Linked DNA regions of Homo sapiens: region 2 is reported to be linked to region 1. Evidence: microRNA targets listed by miRTarBase, many of them from high-throughput screens and not tested one by one. Region 1 holds a microRNA gene; the other region holds the end of a gene's coding sequence.
What was found. The annotated mature microRNA hsa-miR-1273h-5p reads CUGGGAGGUCAAGGCUGCAGU and lies in region 1 at 4,808-4,828, shown strand. An mRNA with a match to its seed (bases 2 to 7 or 8) in the 3' UTR can be bound and repressed. Matches are read on the target gene's strand: a 7mer-m8 pairs with bases 2 to 8, a 7mer-A1 pairs with bases 2 to 7 and ends in A, and an 8mer does both.

Region 2: the mRNA of TTLL9 is a reported target of hsa-miR-1273h-5p. Seed matches in the 3' UTR shown: 8mer at 6,128-6,135 and 7mer-m8 at 5,123-5,129.

What each region holds. Positions count from the first base shown.
Region 1 is chr16:24,198,341-24,206,402 of GRCh38, forward strand. MIR1273H (microRNA 1273h) reads left to right here and starts at 4,776; the gene lies at 4,776-4,891. The region is part of intron 16 of PRKCB (protein kinase C beta); the gene reads left to right.
Region 2 is chr20:31,942,575-31,949,574 of GRCh38, reverse strand. It overlaps TTLL9 (tubulin tyrosine ligase like 9), which reads right to left. Exons shown (of 15, transcript NM_001008409.5): 15 at 4,575-6,630. The coding sequence ends at 6,554. It overlaps PDRG1 (p53 and DNA damage regulated 1), which reads left to right. Exons shown (of 5, transcript NM_030815.3): 3 at 693-767; 4 at 2,999-3,079; 5 at 3,686-5,238. The coding sequence ends at 3,768. Among named protein-coding and RNA genes, the nearest start is that of PDRG1, 6.0 kb to the left of the region's middle.

The DNA of each region.
Region 1 (8,062 bases):
CACCTAATGAAGGGCTTACTGTGAAAACTGGGTAGGGGGATGAGCCCAGGGTACAAGGATTCAGCCGCCTCAGAAGACAACCCAGGTAGCAGCATAGAAGCAGTGAGGTGAAGAGGAAGAGAAAGCTAAGTAGGCTTCATTAGAGTCCTTGGAGTCTTTTCTGCTTTTTATTTATTTGTTTTTTCATTGTTTTTAATTAATTGCCCAGGCTGGTGTCAAAATCCTGGCCTCAAGTGATCCTCCCACCTCTGCCTCTGAAAGTGCTGGGGGTTACAGGCGTGAGCCACTGTGCCTGGCACCTGTGGAGTCTTAAGCGCTAAAGTGTGTGTACAATGATCTGCCCAGTAGTAAACATGGCTCTAGTATTCTTTTAAAATATTATCAATCAGATCATCAATTGTTCTAAAATATGGTCAACCAGATTGTCAAGTGTTCTAAAATATGATGCATCTGATCGTCAATGCTCTCTGGGCAGGGCTTGAGGAGTACAACCTGATGAGAAGCAGACGTTAAGATCCCCTTTCCTCCACTCCTGACATTGGAGCAACCATCCAGTCCTGTCTAGACATCACTACAATGCTCATTCCCTCCTTCCTTCCATTCTAGCCTGTGTCAGGCCTCACTAACTCCAAACCCACTTGTATGACAGACTGATTCCAATCATTTCTGCTCTTGTTACCGATTCTTATCTGCACTTTACTTAAAGCCCCATAATTTTGAGGCATCTGGACAGTAGGAAAGGCTGAAAACCTGGCAAGCTTTTATAGCTTGCAAAGGTCCTTGTCCTATGCTCTGTTAGTATCATTTCCAAAATACTACTTGGGCTATCTGATCACATCCCATTGCCCGTATCCTCTGAGAGTCTAAATGCTGAACTGCTTCAGAAACTAAATCATACTCACAGGACTTGGTTTCTCAGCAATTTTATCATCTGAAAACATTGTTTATGTAGCTGAGGTCAAAAGCTTCAAGTACTGCTTTAATGAGCTGCGAATCTGTTCATGTGACATTCTCTTCCAAACCCAATTGCCCTTTACACTGTATGAGTAAGTGCCTCTGTGTGTGTGTGTCTGAATGTGTGTGTTTGATGTGCTGACATTTCTGAATTGAATCCAGAAAGTGTAACCTTTGTATGTTTGCTGTTAAAACTCCAAATTCAAGCCTTAAGAAAAGGATCTAACACTTACTCAATGTGATTTATTTAAGCACAGAACCTAACTCCCCCAAAGTATCAAATACTCAAGAGAACAATTCATTTTTGAAAATTGTGATTTAAAATAATTCTCATAAAACCTTTACTGTTCAAATATATTAGAAAATATATTGCATTTTTGTCTGCATCAGGCACTGTTTTAACTGCCTTCCATGAATTGCCTCATTTAATTCTCTCAACCCTGTAAGGTAGGGTTATCACCACAGTATAGATGAGGAACTAGAGCTTGGAAAAGTTAAGGCATTTGCCCAAGGTCCAGCAACTAGAAAGCAGAGGAGCCAGGACTTGATCCCTGGACTGTACACTGCACAAGACCCTTGTAAAGATTATTAGAAGCACTTGGAGCCCCTGGTAAGGTTTGTGATTGTGCTACCAGGAGAGTCATGATAACACCATCGAATGGTGTCTGTTACATAATAGAAAAAGACTGAGTATTCTTACAATTCAAATGATTTAAATTTATTTTAAAATATTGCAACAAATAAGTAGCATCTTCACAGCTTTTATAATTCGTTGTCAGGATTTTAAAAGATGCAAATCTTATTTGTTCCTTAGGGCTTTGATTTTGAGGCTGACAAAGACGGCATGCATTGACTAACCTCTGAAAGAAGGGCATGGCAGCATTGAAATGAGGCAGCCGAGACAGGCTCATTAAGGAGTAGAGGTTTCCCTGCTCATTTCTGGTTGTTCTTTTGGGGTATCCACTGTGTGGAGTTTGCAGAGATCTTAATAAAAATATCAACCTACATTTATATACTGACAAACAAATAGCCAAGAGCCATTTAGGACACACAGCTTGGAGTCTGTTTATCTCTCTCCACCTATCTACACACCCATGGAGAACCCATTTAAACTTCAGATCAAACCAGGCTCCCTTTAGATGGTTGGAATTGTCAGGTTCCTGAGCCAGGTGAAGTTCCTAAATCAGTTTCTGTCTTAGTCCATGTTGTGTTGCTATGACTGAATACCACAGACTAGATAATTTATAAAGAAAAGAAATTTATTTCTTACAGTTCTGGAGGCTGGGAAGTCCAAGGGTGAGGGGCTTGCATCTGGTGAGAGACTTCTTGCTGTGTCATCCCATGGCAGAAGGTGAAGGGCAAGAGAGAGTATGCGTGCATGTGTGTGCATATATATGCATATGCATACATGTGTGTGCACATGCAGGGGAAAGATACGGAGCCAAACTCATCCCTTTTATTAGGATCCCACTACCAAGATAATGTTGTTAAGTTCTCATGAGGTGCCACCTCTCAACACTGTTGCATTGGAGATTCAGTTTCTAACACATGAACTTTGGCGGGGCAAGTCAACCATAGAACCTACCAGATACATGACTTTGAGTCATGTACTATTATATTATTATTTATTATTATTATTGTTATTTTGATACTGGTCCATGGCCCAGGGATTGGGGATCCCTGCCCTAAATCGTGAGGAAGATTGAGGCCCATGGGTGCCACTGGTTGGTAGCCGTCAGCTTCTTACCACCTACCGGCACCTCCATAGTCATCTTGACCTCCTTGCCCAGCTTCCATCTCTGTCTTAGCAAATATGTTTTCCCTCCCCCAACTCATGTGAGACTTACCCTCACTCCTGCTCTGGACTCCAGCCTCTTGATCCTTCATGCTTATCTCCCCTGTTTAGTCTGTCTACAGCTTCTCTCTGTATCAACAAAACTCCTATGGTTTCAAATAGGAATCTGATTTAAACTGACTTTTAAGCAAAAAATAATGATAGTTAGTATTCAGATGTAGATGGATCATCTACATCTGGTCCCAAACAATGCCAGCAGGGAAACATTTATCTATATCCCTTAGGATTACTTTCCCCACTGTGTTGACTTCATTCTTCATTCTCAGAAGGCTTTCTTGGGCACATAGCAACTCCCAATTTATGTCCCATTATCTCTGCAACTTCTACCAAAGAAAAGGGCTTCCTTTTTATAAAATCCCAGCAGCCTAGGACTCAATCTTTTTGGAAGATTATTGGGTCATATGCCCATCTCTAAGGGAATTGCTCACTGCACCAGGGGGATGGAATGTGCTGATTGACCGGGCCTGGGTCACCAGCCCCTCTTAGCCAGAGAGCTGGATCTAATCCAGACATTTTGAAAAAAGAGAAGGAATGTCCTATCTAAATCAGACATTTTGAAAGAAGAGAAGGAATATCTCCTTTAAGAAAAAAAAGCCACTGTCATGGCCGGGTGTGGTGGCTCACGCCTATAATCCCAGCACTTTGGGAGGCTGAGGCGGGTGGATCATGAGGTCAGGAGATCGAGACCATCTTGGCTAACACGGTGAAACCCCATCTCCACTAAAAAATACAAAAAATTAGCTGGGCGCGGTGGCGGGCACCTGTAGTCCCAGCTACTCGGGAGGCTGAGGCAGGAGAATGGCGTGAACCCAGGAGGCGGAGCTTGCAGTGAGCTGAGATAGCGCCACTGCAGTCCAGCCTGGGCAAAAGAGCGAGACTCCGTCTCAAAAAAAAAAAAAAAGAAAAAAAGAAAAATAAAGCCACTGTCACTAGAAGAAAAGACAATGCCTGCTGGCTGGGCAAAAACAGCAGCTGTCCTTTCTGACTCTATCCTGGCCTTCTCCTTTGTGCATAAACCTGCTATGTCTTTTTCATGTTAAAAATCCCCTACCTCAAACCTGGGAATCCTCCTTACTACTACTCTTACTACTGCTATGATTACTACCCTACCTTACTTTGCATACAAACACACTTTTGAAAGAGTTGCCAGTTCCTGCTATTTCCACTTGATGACAATTTATTGTTTCCTCAGTTTGGTGCAATCTGGCTTCTGCTCCCGCCATCCTATTGATATTTTTCTCATTGAGTCATCAATGACCTGAAAACTGCCTCTTCTCATAAGCTTGTCTCATCTTTCTTGACCTCACCATATTATTAGGTGCTCTAATCCTTTCTCCTTTAAAAAAATGTGAAAAAATAAAATATTCAAGCAGCATCAGAAGCTACAAAGTGAAATTAAGATTCCCCTCACCCATGGCTCCTAGCTAGGCTTCCTGGTTCTCCTTCCCAGAGACACCCATTGCAACCAGGTTCTTGTGTGACCTTCTAGAGAAGATGTGTTCAGGCCCAGAAATAGTCTACATCACACACAAGGATGTTAGCATGCTGTGTACAATTTCTGTATCTTGCATTATTCCCCTCTGTCTTGGAGATTGTTTCTTATCTGCTTATCTAACTCTACATCACCCTTTGAATAACTTCCTAGTTTCCTATATAAGTGAGTTTATCTGTAGGAAAAGTTCAGAGTGCCTTCTTTCTTTTTAAGCCCCTCTTCTCCTTCATTTTTATGACATTGTGTGTCTGTCTTAGTCTGTTTTGTGCTGCTATAAGAATACCTGAAACTGGGGCCTGGTGCAGTGGCTCATGCCTGTAATTCCAGCACTTTGGGAGGTTAACATGGGCAGATCACTTGAGCTTGAGCCCAGGAGTTTGAGACCAGCTTGGGGAACATGGCAAAATCTGTCTTTACACACACAAAAATTACAAAAATCAACCAGGTGGGGTGGCACATGCCTGTAGTCCCAGCTACTTGGGTGACTAAGGCAGGATTGCTTGAGCCTGGGAGGTCAAGGCTGCAGTGTCGTGGTCACAGCTTGCTGCAGACTCGACCTCCCAGGCTTAAGCAATCCTCCTGCTCGAGTGACAGAGTGAGACCCTGTCTCAAAAAAAAAAAAGTGGATAACTTACAATGAAAAGAAATTTATTTGGCTCATGGTTCTGGAGGGTGGGAAGTACAAGATCAGGGGCTGTATCTGGGGAGGACCTTCTTGCTGCATAGTAACCTGATAGAAGGCATCACATGGCAAGAGAACACATGAGGGAGGGTAACTTACTTTTTAAATAAATTCACTCCCACAATAATAACATCAATCCAGTCACCTCCAAAAGTTCCCACCTCTCAACACTGTTGCATTGGGGATTAAGTGTCCAGCACAAGAACTTTGGGAGAACACATTCAAACCATATCACCACATTTGCTGATGTTCTTCCTACCTTCACAGCCACTCCCAATAGAAATTCCAACTCCACAAAGACTTCCAGTGACAGTTGAATTTGGAGGGTTGAGACCAGCTCATGACCCAGAAAGGAAAACAGAAAGCTTACTTTTTGTTTTGTTACAAGTGCAGTCTCTTAAAAATAACCACAAAATGCCCCCCCAAATGGCATATGGAAAACAGCACAGAGATGGTGTGTTAATCTACCTGAAATGTCTTTCTAAGGAAGTGAGGCTTGGATGGGAACGGAAATGCATCCCTTTTTCTTCCCAGGGTACACGTCTTTTTCTCACTTCCTCTAACTGGGAGCCCCAGGGCCTGGCTTTGTCTTGTAGCTTCCTGCCGTGATGCACCAGGCTAAGTGGGAAGGTTTCTGTTCTATGTCTAAAGTAGCACTGGCAGGTCCTCATTCTGCTTGTAATTGGGATGGGAATATGGGTAGGAATTTAGGGTTTGGCAGAGCGTACAGGACCTCTTTCAAGCCAGAGCACAGCCCTGTCAGACTTACTCACTGGACATGAATGGGTCAGTCAGCCCTCAGCAGTAACCACCAGCTACCATGTTAAGTATTTGATGTGAATTTTATCAAGTCATTCTCGCCACACCCTACAAGAAACTTGAGCTTAGGGGACTTAGCTAACTTGCTTGAAGGTTGTATAGCTGGGAATTGTTGGAGCCAGGATTGGTACCCAGGTTAGCTTAACTTTTAAGTCCGTGCCACACAATCAGATACATAGTATGAGGCAATGGGATGTAATGGAAAGCCCATGGGCTTTGGAATTGAACAGATGGGCTCTGGATCTTGGCTCTCCTACTTGACCCTATATGACCCTGAACAAACTGTTAACTCTTAAAATTATCTGTTAAGTAGAGATAATCCTTTTCCTGCCTATCTCACAGCCTTGTGGGAATCAAAGCTATAAAAAGATAGGCAAATAGAAGGGATAATTACTATTTGAGGGTGAGTTTACTTGAAGCCAACAATGTGGGTTTAGGATGAATGGTGAAGAATAGATAAGAAAAAAAATGATATTCTGTTGACATGGGAAGATGTTTAGAGTGTATTTCATCTAGTTTCTTTTAAAAAGCAAGCAAAAGAACAGAGTCATGATTCCACCTTTGTCTAAAAACTAAAAAACATCCATTCATCTATTCATCCAGCCATCTAGGATACAAACCAAGATGTTAACATAATACAGAGATTTGGGGTGGCGGGATTAAGAAGGATTCTTTTGTGTGTTTTAAAATTTTTTATGGCCAGGCACAGAGGCTCATGCCTGTAATCCTAGCACTTTGGGAGGCCAAGGCGTGCAGATCACGAGGTCAGGAGTTCGAGACCAGCCTAGCCAACATAGTGAAACCCCGTCTCTACTAAAAATACAAAAATTAGCTGGGCATGGTGATGGGTGCCTGTAGTCCCAGCTACTTGGGAGGCTGAGGCAGGAGAATCGCTTGAACCCGGGAGGTGGAGGTTGCAGTGAGCCGAGATCGTGCCACTGCACACCAGCCTGGGCGACAAAGTGAGACTTCATCTCAAAAAAAAAATTATTATTATAATTCCTTTTTTTTTTTTTTTTTTTTTTAGAGACAGGGTCTTACTCTGTTACCCAGGCTGAAGTGAAGTGGAACAGTCATAGCTCACTGCAGCCTCCAGTTCCTGGGCTCAAGGGATTCCCCGTGCCTCAGCCTCTTGAACAGCTGGGACCACAGGCATGCACCACCATGCCTGGCCAATTTTTAAAAAATTCTTTGTAGAGACAGGTTCTCTCTATGTTGCCCAGGCTGGTCTCAAACTCCTGATCTCAAGTGATCCTTCCACCTGGGCCTCCCAAAGTGCTGGTATTATAGGCATGGCACCACCATGCCTGGCATCTTGGTGCTTTTTAATAGCTTGTTTGTTTCTGCGATAAATGTAGGAGACTGATAGAAGAGTCTGGATCTCTTGTCAAATCTAGGATCAAATCGTGGTCAGATACTTAAACTAAACCCATTTTCTCATTGCACAGCAAGGACTTCATAGAGCTTTTGGGGGGATTAAAGGAGGTAAAGCTTGCAAAACACTTAACACAGTATCTGGCTCATAGTTAGTGCTTAACATACACTATTATTTGTCCATTTGATTTTTTTTCATCCCTGGGTTCTAGAAACGCAGTGGTGAATAAAACAGATGTGATTTTGCTCTCATGTGGCTTACAGTCTAGATGAGAACATAGACAATCAACAGAGAATGAACATGTATTAATAATTATAGACTGAGATATACCAGATTTTATTTCTGTTAAAGAAATGAACAGGATATCTTGACAGAGAATAACAGGAGGGAAGAATGAGAATCCTCTTTATTTGAAGGTGGTCTGGAACAGCTTCTCTGACAGGGTGCCATTTAAACTGAGATCTGGAGGAAATCAAAACACTGGATGTTATTTTTTAATGAAAATTAAGAAAAGCAAGAGCAAAACAAAACAGACTTAGTATCAAACACAAAAGACCCCTCTCCTACTGACTTCCTCCCTAAATAAACATAAGAGATAAAAGATCCCTGATTGTAAGGGACCTTCATTATTAGCAGAAAAAGGAGACTTAAATCTCTCTTTTTTTCTGCCAAAACCCAGACCACAAATGACTTTTTAAAATGATCAAATATGTATGCAGCTTTGAGCATCTGATTCTCCCTGGAGTGGGTCCCTCCTGTATTCGGCTGTGGGAAACTGGAAGGCATAGGAACGACCCTGCATTTCACTGGATGTGCACATGTGAAAAAGAAAGATGCGCTTGTCTTTTTGCCTAGGCTATGTAGCTTGGATGTCTTTTCATCGTG
Region 2 (7,000 bases), not on the chromosome of region 1:
TTGGAGACAGAGCCTTGCTCTGTCACCCAGACTGGAGTGCAGTGGCATGATCTTGGCTCACTGCAACCTCTGTCTCCCAGGTTCAAGTGATTCTTGTGCCTCAGCCTCCTGAGTAGCTGAGATTACAGGCGTGTGCCACCACACCCAGCTAATTTTTGTATTTTTAATAGATACAGCGTTTCGCCATGTTGGCCAGGCCGGTCTCGAGGTCCTGGCCTCAAGTGATCCACCTGCCTCGGCCTCCCAAAGTGCTGGGATTACAGGCGTGAGCCACTGCGCCCGGCCCCTTGCTGTTCTGAACACCCCAAGCACACTACTGATCTTTGCTGTTCCTGTTGTTTCCTCTGTTTGGCTCACTCTTTCCCCAGATGTCTGCAGGGCTCACACTCTCACTTTCCTTAGGTCTCTGTGTAGATAGCATATAATCAGTAAGGCCTTCTCAGACTACCTGCTATGATTAACAAGGTCCTCCTCTGGCATTCCCTAGCCATCTTAGCCTGCTTTATTTTTCTCTACAACTCTTAAGGTCTGACAAATCATATCTTTATTCTCTCTCCTCCACTGTAACATAAGCTCCAAGAGGGCAGGAACTTTTTCTTGTTCTGCTCTGTTGTCTGTATCTAAAACAATGCCTGGCAGATAATAGGTACTCAAAAAAAAATTGTTGAAGGAATTACTATTTGCTCTTTCAGAAGATGTGATGGTTTGCTTCGGGAACATGTTTATCAAGATGCCTCACCCTGAGACAAAGGAAATGATTGAAAAAGGTAAGGCCTCCTGGGGATGGGTCAGGGGTGTGCTGCCTCTCCCACCAGCTTTGGTCTTAACCCAGAACAGGGAGTCAGGCTTCAGGCAGCGTAAGGAGAGGCAGTTCTGTCACAGGGTTCAGACTGCTGTGGGTTTTAATTCCACCTCTGCCACTGTGGGTTATTTCCTCATCTCTAAGAGGGGGATGCATCTGTGTAGCATAGCTGTGCAGTTGAGGTAAAACAATATGTGTGCCTAGCATAGTGCTTTCTTATTAGTGAGGAATCAGTTGGGCTGCAGATAACAAAACCCAACAAATTGAGGCTTAAGGAAATATGCTTCTTTTACTCTTGCATAAGAAATTGTCCAGAGGTGTGTACTCCAGTCCTGGCATAGATGCCCAGCAGTGGCACCTTAGCATATTCTCCTGGTTGTTGTTTCATCGTTGCAGGCCTCATGTCCTCATGCCAGGCTGGAGGAAAGACAGAAGGCTTTCGCCACATAGAGCTTTGCCTTCTATTTTGGAAGTAAGGCCATCTCCTCAGGGACTTCCTGCCAACATCTCATTGGCCAGAACTAAGTCACATGGTCACCCATAGCTGCAAGAGAGCCTGGGAGAGTGAGCTTTTCTTTTTTACATGCCCTGCAATAGAGACTGGGTTGAAAATGGAGGTTTGGGGAGATTAAACCTCTAGGGTCTGCCATAGCCTAGGCACTCAGTGTACTCAGTTTCCACAACCATAATCTGGAAGCTCTTTGGAAAAGCATCTTAAAGCAAGTCAGGCTGCAAATGGATTATTGGCTAGAAAAAGAACAGGCTACACATACTTTTTCTTCCATAACCTTGAAAATGGCCAAAAGGACAAGCAAGGTTGCCTCAGTCCCTGAAGACAGGATGTCTTCATACCTCATGAAATAAAACTTTTTTTTTTTTCCTTGAGACAGAGTCTTGCTCTGTCACCCAGGCTGGAGTGCAATGGTGCTATCTCGGCTCACTGCAACCTTTGCCTCCCAGGTTCAAGCAATTCTCCTGCCTCAGCCTCCTGATTAGCTGGAATTATAGGTGCATGCCATCATGCGTGGCTAATTTTTGTGTTTTTTTAGTAAAGACAGGGTTTTGCTATGTTGGCCAGGCTGGTCTAAGTGACCTCAGGTGATCCACCCACCTTGGCCTCCCACCAAAGTGCTGGGATTACAGGCGTGAGCCACTGCTCCTGGCCAGTGACATAAAACTACTAACAGGAAGCTATATCCAGCCTGGAGAAGTTTCCAGCTGTTGTGTTGAAAAAATACACTAATATTATGGTTATAAAATTAAACTGCACTTGGTGGTGGGCTGGAGGCTAAGCTTTCAGAGGGTCCCTTGCCTGGGTTCAGGATCTTGTTGGCCCTTTTGGCCCCCAAATGTCGTCTTGTCACTGTACCTAGAGGGGTTCTGAGACATTATCAGATTTCTTGGGGATCAACATAGGCTAAACAAGCTCATGGACATTGGGGTTACTCATTCACAATGAGAAATAGAACCAGGCTGTAAGGCTTGGCCATTCAGGGTTTCTCCCCCATCTGAAAGAGTGAGTCTGTGGGGAAGACAGGCTAGCCAGAATGTCACTCATGAGCAGGTGGAATTGGCTGGGTGACTTCAGTCAATTGGTCAATCAAGCTTTGATAGCCACCTCTGTCATCACACCAACTCTTCTCAGGGGCAGTCCATGACACTAGAAGACCCTTTTCTGTTCACAGTGGCTAATTAAGTTAAGCTTGAGCATTGCTTGCGTGTTGATTGTTTACGTCACATGTTTACACAATCATGTTTTTCTAAAACCCCCTCACCTTGATGGACTTGGGTTTGTAAAATTTCTTAGGCATCCATTTTCCAGCCATCTAGGGTGGGCTGAATCTAGAGATGCTTATTTTGTTTGTGCATTTGAATTTTCCATAATTTCATTGTGGGAGGGCAGCCTAAAGTCCTGATGTTGCCTTCTCCATCCACTGACCACCCCAAGGTACTTTGCATAATGCAGAAAAGGCCAGTGTAATGGGAGTTGGGACTGCTGTGTCCTGGGCTCTCTGAGTGGTCCTGAGCAGGTCATGTCCCTTCTAGACTTTAATCCTTCCTCAGTTGGCCTCTGATGTCCCCTTTTCCTTCCTGAAAGCTACACGCCCTTGCTGGGGAGAGGCTGGCCTCTCCACTACTGGGATCAAGTCTGTCTGGTACAATCTTATCCTCTGCTTGCCCCCCTCATTTTTTCAGATCAAGATCATCTGGATAAAGAAATAGAAAAACTGCGGAAGCAACTTAAAGTGAAGGTCAACCGCCTTTTTGAGGCCCAAGGTATTGGCTTAGCAGGGACTGGAGATAAGAAGGGGAGGGAATCATCAGCATGGACTTTGAAGGGCAGGGATGGGAAGTCCGACCCTCAGAGATGGGCAGTGTCCGGGGCAGCCTGTGAGTGGCCCTGGAGGTGTGCACAGTGGTTGGTTGTAGCTGCCCAGGGACAGAATGGACAGGGGGACTTCTACAGTCCTAGTCCTGTCATAGTTTCTTTTCCAGGTCCCAGGAACCGCTTGGGGTGATCTCACGTTATACATCGGGGCATGGCATGGGGATCAGATAGCTCTGACTGAGGAAACTCAGAAGGCTTCAGTGAGTGAGTGAGGTCAGAGCTGAAATTCTTGATAAATGCAAGCACTCTAGATTGGTCACAGGTCTTGGAAAAACCTGAGGTTCTTTGGGCAGCAGAGTTACGCGTTTGCAGGCTCTTGGTGACACAGGAGCAGTGGTGATGCCTCATCTGGTGCATTGCAGAATTGGAGGCCCATCCCTGCCAGACCTCCAGGCTGAGTTTGGCAGCATTAGTGCAGCGTCAGCCCCTTTCCTGGGCCTGGCTCCAGAGCCAGCAGGAGGCCCGACGTGCTGATGGATCATCTTCTCTCCTAGGCAAACCGGAGCTGAAGGGTTTTAACTTGAACCCCCTCAACCAGGATGAGCTTAAAGCTCTCAAGGTCATCTTGAAAGGATGAGACTCAAGAACCAAGATGGGGGACCAGCAACCCCCCAGGGTCATGGAGGACCCAGGACCCTCCAACCTTGACACCTGTAAGGACAGGATCTGCCCTGTAAGGGGCCAGCCGTCAGGAATCTGGCCATGAAAACCTCTTTGTAGTGCTTGGCTACTCTGTGATGGCAGGAGGGAACCTTCAGCCTGTCTGGCTGCTGGACCTGGACACCAGGGCTCGGTGGACACAAGATCTATTGACGGGCCTTGGTAGCCACCAGTGGGTGTGTGGGGCAGTGGCTGTGGGGGTGTAAGAATGACTGCAACAGGCACTTCCCAACAATGGCCTGCTGTTCACATGGACCCTGAGCAAGGAAGGAGGGAGGGAGGGGCAGAGTGGAGTGTCATTCCAGCATTCCTCTCAGAAGGGAGAGAGGTTTTCAGGCTGGTGCCATGCGATTGGAATAAAGCAGGAGGCTCATGGGTGGTTGCTGAATGAAGAACAGAATCTTGGTGCTTTGTGGCTCACCACAGCCATCTGTGGGGCAGGCACACACACCTCCCGCCAGCTCCAATTTTGCACTTTTTCCCTGCTTGATTCCAAGAGTAGGTGCTGCCTAGCAGCCCTTCGTGGCCACTCTTTACTCAGGAGGGCCTTGCAGAGTCCTGCACCAGGCCTGGGTGAGTGGATGCGCCTCTTACCATATGACACGTGTCAAGATGCCCTTCCGCCCCCTCTGAAAGTGGGGCCCGGCCAGCACTGCTCGTTACTGTCTGCCTTCAGTGGTCTGAGGTCCCAGTATGAACTGCCGTGAAGTCAAAACTCTTATGTGTTCATTAAGGGCTCAATAAATGTTAGCTGAATGAATGAATAGCAGCAACTAGTCTTTATTTGCCTCATCTAGTCCTTCAGTAAGGGCACGCCACTCCATTTAGAATACAACCTATGAACATGGTTCTTGCCTTGAAATAAACCTGTGATTTGACAGGCGGGTGATAACAAATGGCAGCATGGCAGGGGCACACCTCTCCTGGTCCCCCCGCTCCTTGGCTCTGGCTCATAGTTACATAGAAACACAGGCTGTCATGGCCAGTTCTTACGTGTTTTCAAGAGAAGCTAGACATATGGGTTGTGAAGTTGAATCTCCTTTTAAATATTTTTGACTAATGCAGAAACTTTTAAAACATGAGTGTGGGTCACAGGTGTTAGCTCCAGATAGTGCAATACCATACAACTATAATCAAGAATAAGGAACAAGCTCCAAGATACATCAAGTGAGGAAAGCAAGGGGAAGGCTGGTGTCTTATAAGCTAATAATTTTTGTGCAAGCACAGTGTGATTCCCTCAGAACAGCACCTGCAGGGTTGGGGCGCACAGGTGGGAGGGAAGGAGATGTCACCCTATACCCTTTTGTAAACTTTGGATTTTAAACCGTATGAATATATTGCTTATTTTAAAATGTAAATAAAGTAGGGAGTTGCAGAATTCACCTTGCTAGATGTTGTCCAGTGTGACTGCCTGATTCACAATTTCATCACTGGAAAATTGCCCCTTCCTCCCTGGCAGGGTGGGTGCTGGGCCAAAAAAAGCTAATCGCATTCCTTCTGGAAATAGGGAACCTGGAGTCCATGCCTGGACCTGTCTGGGTTGGTGTGCCTCAGGTACAGGGATGAGTGGGAGAAGTCCTCATGCTCTGAAGGCAGAAGGTCTAGAGTAGCCTGGCTTCTGGCTTTCCTAAAGTCGGCTGGTTCACTTCTTGGATTTGCCAGTATTTTCCTTCCAAAAGTCTTCCCTTCGGGCTTGACCTAGGCAGGCAGATTCAACCATTTGCAGCCAGAGAAACTACTCTGAAGCAGGCGGAGTGGTAGAGGGAGTAAGTCCCCCCTGGAACAGTTACCCCAACAGCCCCGAGTCTTGTTGCAACCCCTCTTAAACCAAGAGGAAGCTTAGCAATGTAAGATGTGAAAAGGCAGATTTTTACTCACACTCAACTCCCGAAGCTGTCCTGCCCATGAGCCCAGGGTTTTCCGGTTTCTGGCTCAGCTCCCAATCTCAAACACAAGGCCTAGAGAAGCACTTAAGTCACCCATCTGACTTAGATAAATGCACCTTTGCAGAGACCCTCACTAAGCTCTGCCTCCCTGGTCTGTCTTGTCCATCTGAGAAATGGGGATGCCCTGTCCCACTGGTTTTCAGATGATGGTCAGGGAGCCCCATGGGCTCCCCTGACATGCAAGGAGAAGAGGATGTGTTTAGGGCTCAGTACTTCCCCAGGCCCCCAATAAACACACAATCTAATAACTGCTTGCTGTGTAAGCACAGCTTAAAGACGAGTTCCTTAGCCTCCAAACTCTTGCTCCTGAAGGACCTTTTCAGCACTGACTTGGGAGGTATCCAAGTGTCAAAGCCAGGAGGACTTGGCTGCAGCCAACAGTATCCCCGGAACCAGGCCTGGTGCCCAGTGACTCCAAGTAGGGCCTGTGCTCATTTATTAGATATGATCTCCTGGGGGTAGCAGAACTTGCTGTATTTGTTCTCTTTGGGCCTAACTGCCAAGTCAGTTTGTCAAGGTTAAACCTCCCCCAGTCCCAGTGATTGGCTGTCTCCTGGTGCAAAGATGCCTGGGGATGGGCTGGAGGTATCCAAGGGGCCCAATTCAGGTAGTAAGCTGCAGCTGCTAAGCCAGCAAAGCTGGTGCCAGGCTGGAGGTGGGGAGGCGAATGCTGTGAGGTGCTGTGCTGGGATCTGGGAGTGGGGGGGAGGCCTGGGTGGCACCTGCTAAGGCTGATTTCCTCCTGGCAGCTGGGGATCAACTGGAAGCTTTCTTCTGAACTTGAAGGGAGCAGAAGAGCTGCCTCAGTTGTTTCTTCCGATCGTTGACGCAGCCTGGAAAGGAAGTGGGGTGTTGGCTGGGATGACCTATGCTTGGGAGGAGTGGAGGGGCCTGTGCCCCAACTCCCTGCTGGGAAGAGGGGACAGCGGGAGTCAGACAACCACACACAGCCTGTGGTTTATATCCTGGCTCCATTCCTAAACTGCCATGGCCCTCAAGCAGGTCAGTTACCCTTTTCAGCATCGGTCTTCTCATCTGTAAACCAGGATACTACTGCCCACCTTATGGAGTGAACATGAGGACTGGGGGCTTACCTCAAGCCAGGAACTGCTCCAGATGCTGAATGTGGATGGATTTGTTTGGCCCTCGCAGGAATGATGTGTAGAAGGGAAAACAGGCTCAGAGAGGTTAAATCATTTGAAC